Regions from separate parts of the Homo sapiens genome. Here regions 1 and 2 are each linked to region 3. Evidence: fine-mapped expression QTL. A gene starts in region 3. Each other region holds a variant in brackets. All regions are shown on one strand. Distances are from middle to middle.

Region 1 (2,818 bases), 44 kb before region 3:
CGATGAAACCGCTTCTCTACTAAAAATACAAAAAATTAGTCGGGCGTCGTGGCAGGCGCCTGTAATCCCAGCTACTTGGGAGGCTGAGGCAGGAGAATCGCTTAAACCCGGGAGGTGGAGGTTGCAGTGACCTGAGATCACACCACTGCCCTCCAGCCTGGGCAACAAGAGCAAAACTCCATCTCAAAAAGAAAAGAAAAAGGTGCCCGAGCACAGTGGGCACTGCATTTCACTAGCTTCCTAGGCCGGCTGGGAACTCTTGTGGAGGCCACCTGGGGCTGGCAGAGGCAGGCAGATCCCCTCGATAAGAGGAAACCCAGGCTCAGAGAGGGGAAGCGACTTGCCCAAAGCCCACGGTCAATTATGGGAGGAGTTTAGGAGCCAGGGGAAGTCCCTCTACTCCCTGTCCAACGCTCCTTCCTCTCCACAGTCCTGCCTGGATGGAGTTCATCATCTCCAGGAAAGACAGGGACCTCAATAGGGAAGGTGAGGAGGTCAGGGCCGGTATCCTGAGTTCAGCAGGATCTCAAGAGTCCAGGAGGAATACTCCTCCCGCCTGCGGCCCCTGCCCCTCTGAGGTCGCGCTTCCCTGTCTCCTTTGTACTCACCGATCCAGGGGCGAAGTCCCTGCCCATTCGATCTAGCCGCTGCTTGGGGCTTTCACCACACGTGCCCACCAGTGTGACAGAGATGTTGTCCAGTGTGCCGGCCCTCAGGTAGGGACCAGTGGTCACACACAGGCGGTACACTGCCATGATGGGAAGGAGGAAGGGATGCCCCGGCAACGCTGGCCGCAGCAGCAGCCGGCCTGGAGGAGAAGAGCGGCACGCCGGACAGGGCTGGGTTTCTGGGCGGAGGGCTAGGGGCTGCGGGGCTGGGTAGGGCTGAGGATGGGCCCAGCTCTCTCTGGGATGTTCCTGGGCTTTCTCTCTCCGAAGCTCCCTGCTGGCGGCTCGGGCTTCCTCTCTCCGCCCACAGTCTTGCACTCTAATACTTGTTTGCTTGCCTCTGACACAGCCGGTCCCTCTGGCTGGCTCACCCAGATGGATATCAGGAGCCTGGGTTCCACTGCGGAGGGAGGGATCAGATGCTGAGATGGAGAAAAGGAGGTAACGCCTGTATAATTGGGACACTGC[C/T]CTCCGCCTGGTCAGCGGCCCGGACTGATGCCCTGGAGTGCTTGTCCGCCCACTCCCCAATGTCCCCCAAGATCTGTTCCTCCCCATTCCCAGGCAGAGATGAGCACAGGGCACCTGCATTCCTACGTGTGAATCATCCGTGTGAATCACTAAACAGTGGAGAGTTGCACTTGGTCATAAATCACACGTGACTGCAGCCACACGCAGGTGAGTCGCACACGCATTCCAGCACATGTCAAATGGTCAGGAACAGCTCCCTGTCACCCCATACACCGATCCCCCCACGCATGGCCCTCTTTGTCCCCAGCCTTTGGCACGCCCGACCTCATTCTCTGCTCTGGAGTAGGGCAGGTCAGGAAAGCGAAATACAGCGCCGGCAAACAGGGTCTGAATGCCCCGCGTGGCATTCTTTCCGCTCCAGGACCGCCCTGGGCCTGCAGGATCCTGGGCGGGAGCCCAGGTGTCCGGGATCTGGGCCACTAGGGACTGGGGAGGAACCTCTCAGAGAAGCCCATAGCCCGCAGCGGCCCCGCGCGGCCGGTTCCGGCGCCGCACTGTTCCAGCCTCTACTATGGTACAGTCCCTGCGTCGCAGCCTCGGCGGGGGCTCTAAGAACGGGAGGCAGAAAAAGCTCAATCAGCAGCAGGCGAGCTTCACCCGCTGCTTCCAAATCTGTGCCAAAATATTCTATGCTGCACAGATAAAATCCTCTGTCGGTTCTACAAGCCTGGCTTTTCCTATAGAGAACCCTCTTATAAGCAAAAAGTAAAGCTCTCGTGAAGAGCCCGGATAGCTCAGTCGGTAGAGCATCAGACTTTTAATCTGAGGGTCCAGGGTTCAAGTCCCTGTTCGGGCGGCATGTCTTTGCTTTTGGGTACCGCACTTCGCATAAAATGGTAACAAAAATAGTTACTAGTTTTTAAAGCTAGGTGATACAGAAACTTGATTTCCACAAAATACAGCAAACGACGGTGGAGGGTAATAAACATACTTTAAAACAGTACAAACGCGAGCCGTATTATCGAATTTACATTTTCTGGTAGCCACATTACAAAGAATAAAAAGCAAGCGAAATTAATTTCACGGATCTATTTTACTTACCCTAATATACCAAAATCTTATTTTAACATATAATCAACATTCTAAAAATATTAATGAAATTTTAAGTCTTTTTGTTTGTACAAAGCCTTCCTTCAAAAGAAGATGTGTATTTAGAAGCTGGCAATACATCTGAATTCATATATTTCAAGTGCTCGATAACGGTGTCTACCATATCCAACAGCAGACTTTGTTTTGTTTTCGTTTTAAGTGACGGGTGTGGAAGACACGCAAAATAGAATGTCCAGTAATGTACACAATCTTGAAAGACACCACGAGGGAGGTTCCATGGTGTAATGGTTAGCACTCTGGACTCTGAATCCAGCGATCCGAGTTCAAATCTCGGTGGAACCTTGAAGCTTTTCTTTTAATATCAGCATGTTGAATATTGTTAATTGATTTTCACAGAGGGGATACTCCTATGACCCAAGATAATACGACAAAAAAAAAAAGTAAACTAGGACACTACCAATTATTTGTGCTTTTCCTACCGGATAATTGAGTCCTATAACACAGTGTTAAGAGAACGTACAATAAATTATTTAAATATGTTGGAAGTTGAGCTAACATTTGAAAACATGTTA
Region 2 (2,500 bases), 85 kb after region 3:
GCTAACATGGTGAAACACCGTCTGTACTTAAAAAAAAGAAAAAAAATACAAAAATGAGCTGGGCATGGCGGCGCGTGCCTGTATGCCTGTAATTCCAGCTACTCGGGAGGCTGAGGCAGAAGAATCGCTTGAACCTGGGAGGCAGAGGTTGCAGTGAGCCGAGATCGCGTCACTGCACTCCAGCCTGGTGACAAAGCTAGACTCCGTCTCAAAACACACACACACACACACGCACACAAACCAATCCTTTAGATTGTATTTTCTTAACATCTTATTTATTTATTTATTTATTTATTTATTTATTTATTTATTTATTTGAGATGGAGTCTGGCTCTGTCGTCCAGGCTAGAGTGCAGTGGCGCGATCTCGGCTCACTGCAACCTCCACTTCCGTGGTTCCCTGCTCAGCTTCCTGAGCAGCTGGGATTACCGGCGTGTGCCACCACACCCAATTACCCTCATGTTAAAGTCGCTGCTTAGCAAGAGGTACAAAACTGTCAGCTCTGACCCCTCCACCACCACCCAACTGAACTTTTGAGTTTTTCAGACACCTGCTCTATCCTCCTGCCTTTGAATATGTGTTTGCTTCCGTCCTGAAACCCCTTCCGGCGCTTTTTTTTTTTTTTTTTTTTTTTTGACAGAGTCTCGCTCTGTTGCCCAGGCTGGAGTGCTGTGGCACAATCTCAGCTCACTGCAGCCTCCGTCTACCCGGTTCAAGCGATTCTCCTGCCTCAACCTTCTGAGTAGCTGGAATTACAGGTGCGCGCCACCACGCCCGGCTAATTTTTGTATTTTTAGTAGAGATGAGGTTTCACCATGTTGGTCAGGCTGGTCTCGAACTCCTGACCTCAAGTAATCCGCCCGCCTCCGCCTCCCACAGTGCTGGATTACAAGCGTGAGCCACCACACCCAGCCCCTTTCGGCGCTTTTTGCCTTCTACACGCACTTCGGGTCTCAGACGCTTTTACTTATTATGGTTGCCCTTTTCCCCTACAGCTCCGTCAAGGGTCTTCTCCAGGAACCCACAGCCCCATAGTTCCCCCATTAACCTGCTCCTGGTTTCCCACCAGGATTAAACCCTAGAGAGTGAACGGAGACCAGTTTAAGGCTCACAGCGGGCGCCGCGTGAATGAGGGAATAAACATTCGCAG[A/C]ACCAGTAAGAGGTAGGAGCGGACCGACTCACAACCCCCTCACCCATGGGCCGGACGCGGCCAGCGAGCCCAGAGAGACAAGGCAGAGGAAATAGGAAGAGAAAGAGTATCTGTGACAAACAAGAAAAAAGGAACAAGAGACGTAATAGCAGCACTCACGGAGGAAGGGACCTGGGCCCGGCCAGCCGCCATGATGCGCCGGAGCTCCGCCCCCGGGAGGGGCAGGTGCTCGCTTGGGGGTGGGGATGGGGGTGGGGGGGCGCTCGGTGACGTCACCGGTGAGCGGGTTTCCTCGCCACCTCCAGCTCCTTCTCGCTGCTCACCCCCTCGCTTCCTAGAGACTCCGCGAGGCGCCTCGGTGCACCATCCCAACTCCCGACACCCCTGTCTCTTTTCTCTGATTTTTTTTTTTTTAAGACGAAGCCTGGTTCTGTCGCCCAGGCTGGAGTGCAGTGGCGCGATCTCGGCTCACTGCAACCCCCGCCTCCCAGGTTCAAGGGATTTTCCGGCCTCAGCCTCCTGAGTAGCTAGGATTACAGGCACCTGCCACCACCACGCCCGGCTAATTTTTTTTTTTTTTTTTTTTTTTGTATTTTTAGTAGAGACGGGGTTTCACCATGTGGCCAGGCTGGTCTCAAACTCCTGACCTCAGGTGATCCACCCGCCTCAGCCTCCCAAAGTGCTGGGATTACAGGCGTGAAACACAGCCCCTGGCCCTCTCTGATTTTTTTGAGACGAGGTCTCGCTCTATCGCCCAGGCTGGAGTGCAGCGGCGCCATCTCGGTTCACTGCAGCCTCGACCTCCCGGGCTCAAGCGATCCTCCCACCTCAGCCCACCAAGTAGCTGGGATCGCAGGCTTGCACCGCCACACCCGGCTAATTTTTGTATTTTTCTGTAGCGACATGGTTTCGCCATGTTGCCCAGACTGGTCTCGAACTCCTGGGCTCAAGCGATCTGCCCGCCTCGGGCTCCCAAAGTGCTCGGATTACAGGCGGGAGCCACCGCGCCCAGCCTCCGTCTCCCTCCTAAGTGACATCCTGTCCGGCATCCCGCAGGCCTTCAGATGGATGGGGTAGCAGAGCTCAGGAACTCAAACACAGCCCGCCTGGTGGATGACTTCTAAGCATCTTTCAGTCTCCCTGATCTTGCCAAGCAGAGAAGGGCTTCCTCGTAATGCCACCAAAGCACAACTTTCACATGCTTGCTTTATGGCCTTAACTAACTGATGTCATTACTTAACTGTCCCCGCGGGGACGGGGAACTGAATGTATTTTCACAAACGTCAGTTCAAGACAGATTTGTGGGAGAAACCACCTGGGGATAAACCTCTCCCCACCAAGAACCTAGAA
Region 3 (2,500 bases):
TCCACTGGGGAAACCTCTCCAGGGAAAGGGCCCCGGCCATTCTCACCCTACTCACCTATGATGATGATGAGGATGATGGCGCAAATCACTCCCAAGATGATCATCATCTGGGGGTGAGAGGCGAGGATCAGTAAGACAAACTATGATACCCCATTCACCCACCTGTCCTCCTTCCTGTCCCCACCCTTACCTTGAGGTTTTTCCACCAGTATTTGCGCTTGAGCTTGGCTGCGCTTGTTTCAAACTGGGAGGCCCCCGCCTGGAGTGCATCTGCACGGTCGTCCAGCTCCGACAGCTTCTGGTCTCGCTCCAGGACCTTGTCCACGTTCACCCTCATGATGTCCACCACCTGGGAGAAGGGCCCACGAGGCAGGGGGGTGTGCCAAGGCCCACCTCAGTGAGGGCAATCCTCAAACATGTGCCCACCGTGCCACACATGGAACATGCACCCTGATACTGCCAGGTTAACATGCCAAGGACACACAGAACATGCCTAGCACACCTGGGGACATGCAAGGAGCACACATCAGGGGCATGCTGGTGACATCTCAGATGTCATAGCAACACCCTCCCTCTATGGAACCTCAGGCGCTCTGTCCATCACCAGAGCACACCTGCCCAGGCTGGCACACCCCAGGCTAGCAAAGCTGATTAACACCCCCAGCGCCCTTCCAAGTGCGTGCTGACAGGGAGACAGGGATGGGGCATGGTATCTTTGTCCGCAAACCCACAGGCGTGAACTGTCATCACTCCCAAACCAACATGGGCCCCTACACCTATACGCCAACCCCCAGGGTCCCTCCTACTGCTTTTGACTCCCCCCACACTCACCTCATCCACCTGGGCCTGGGTCTGCTGCAGTCTCCTGTTACTGGTGAGGTTTGGAGGGGGTGCAGGGGGACCACCCTCCCCAGCCGGGGCAGCAGGGGGGGCCGTGGCAGCGGTAGCAGACCTGAGGAGCAGGGACGGATTAAGACCCAGGGCCTGCAGCCTCCCGGCCCCGCAGCCAGGGCTCCGCCCATCCACCTGTCCATCCTCGTCCCTCCAGTCCTCCTTTTCGGGAGGAAGGCCACCCGATGTAAGCCCTGGTCTCGGTCCAGCCCTGCCGCCGATGAGCTGCGTGACCTTGAGCGAGGCCCCCCCGGCCTCAGTTTCCCCGCCTGTCAACTGAGGGCGACCTCACAGATGCGATCCGGGTCGACCCGAAAAGACAGGCGGCCGCGGTGACAGGGGCGGGGAGGGGCAGGAGGACACTGGGTCCGCTCCTTCCCGCGGCCATCGCCCGAGCCGGCCAGCCCGGGACGCGGGGCTCCTCGGCCGCCCGCGCGCAGTCACCGGCTTGGGCCTGGCCCCGGGGCGCGGGGAACGCAGGAGAGACCCCGGGCACTCCCGACGGCCGGTTGCCAAGGGCGGCGGCCGGCGCAGGGAAGCGCGGTGAGGGTGGCGGGCGGCCGACTCACATGGCGGGGGCAGCGGGTGGAGGACTTGGCAGCGGCAGTGATGGCGGCGGCGGCTCGCGCTGGCTCCGACTGGCGCTGGCTGCCCGGGACGGAAAGATGGCGGCCGCGCGTCACCCGCATCCGGGCACTGCGGGCGGGGGCGGGGCGCCGCGGGAGACGCGTCGCGAGCGGGGCCGCGGGGGCGGGGCGCTGCGGGGCGCTGCGGGGCGGGGGTCGTGCCGGGCAGGACCACGGGCCCCGCGCCACCATGCCCCGGCAGCTCCCTCGGCACTCGCGGGACCCCAAGGCGGGCTGCTGCGGCTTCCCCAAACCCACCGCCACCCCACCCTGTCTGACCACAGCCCCCCCAAACCGCCTGCCGCCTGCCCCTTAGAGCACAACGCAGCCTGGCCCTACACCTAACCCCCAGACCACTCCCTCAATCGTGAACCCAGTAAACCAGCCTGCACCCCACACAGCCCAAGGTCTTGCCCCGCGCCCAGGTCCCAGCACCTAGCGACCCGCCTTCAGCACTTGGAATGGGCTGGAGTTGGGAAATCAGAGAGGGCCAGTGCAGGTGCTGGGGCAGTATCGAGAGCGGGGACCTTACTGCTAGGGTGGAGAGGAGTGGGGGAGATTGGTCCCAACCCATCACCGCTGGTGGATGTCTCAGAGGAAGCCTGGGGTCCCTGGCCACTGGGTAGGAGGGTAGGAAGAAAAGATGAGGCAGGCTCTTCCCGCCCAAACAAGTCCAGGGGGCGGAGGACGGGGGAGTGTCTACAGGGTGTGGGGAGGGGGCTGCCCCGCCTCACGATTAAGGTTCAGACTAGGGGTACTTAACCGCTGGAGCAGGCCCGACTGAGGTGGGGTGAGCTGAGGACCCCGAGGAGGAGGGCACAAGGCTGCCGGGGGTGATGGGGGCAGGGGCTGCTTCACGTGGTGGCTGCTGACTGGCCAAGACCTAGCTTTGCCCCAGGCTTAGGTCAGCGACCCGACTGCAGGAAAGGGCTCAGGCTTTGGTCCCAGGCACAGGGCCTGGGCCAAAAAAAAAAAAAAAGCCT

What was found.
Region 1: its variant is fine-mapped to the expression of VAMP2 in whole blood (INTERVAL, PIP above 0.99).
Region 2: its variant is fine-mapped to the expression of VAMP2 in whole blood (TOPMed, PIP above 0.99).

The regions. Positions count from the first base shown.
Region 1 is chr17:8,117,236-8,120,053 of GRCh38, forward strand. It overlaps ALOXE3 (arachidonate epidermal lipoxygenase 3), which reads right to left and starts at 1,279. Exons shown (of 16, transcript NM_021628.3): 1 at 1,251-1,279; 2 at 609-1,068. The coding sequence starts at 755. It overlaps TRK-TTT3-5 (tRNA-Lys (anticodon TTT) 3-5), which reads left to right and starts at 1,920; the gene lies at 1,920-1,992. TRQ-CTG1-5 (tRNA-Gln (anticodon CTG) 1-5) reads left to right here and starts at 2,517; the gene lies at 2,517-2,588. RefSeq lists enhancers at 445-1,644, 1,366-1,445, 1,526-1,595, 1,746-1,845 and silencers at 2,366-2,415, 2,546-2,635. The variant C/T (reference allele first, on the strand shown) is at 1,137.
Region 2 is chr17:8,246,695-8,249,194 of GRCh38, forward strand. It overlaps CTC1 (CST telomere replication complex component 1), which reads right to left and starts at 1,362. Exons shown (of 23, transcript NM_025099.6): 1 at 1,310-1,362. The coding sequence starts at 1,342. It also overlaps a transcript of PFAS not described here. RefSeq lists enhancers at 1,159-1,298, 1,779-1,898, 2,023-2,500 and a silencer at 1,389-1,438. The variant A/C (reference allele first, on the strand shown) is at 1,151.
Region 3 is chr17:8,161,418-8,163,917 of GRCh38, forward strand. It overlaps VAMP2 (vesicle associated membrane protein 2), which reads right to left and starts at 1,531. Exons shown (of 5, transcript NM_014232.3): 1 at 1,461-1,531; 2 at 832-952; 3 at 191-349; 4 at 56-107. The coding sequence starts at 1,462. RefSeq lists an enhancer at 699-748 and silencers at 859-968, 1,259-1,448, 1,609-1,708, 1,839-1,898.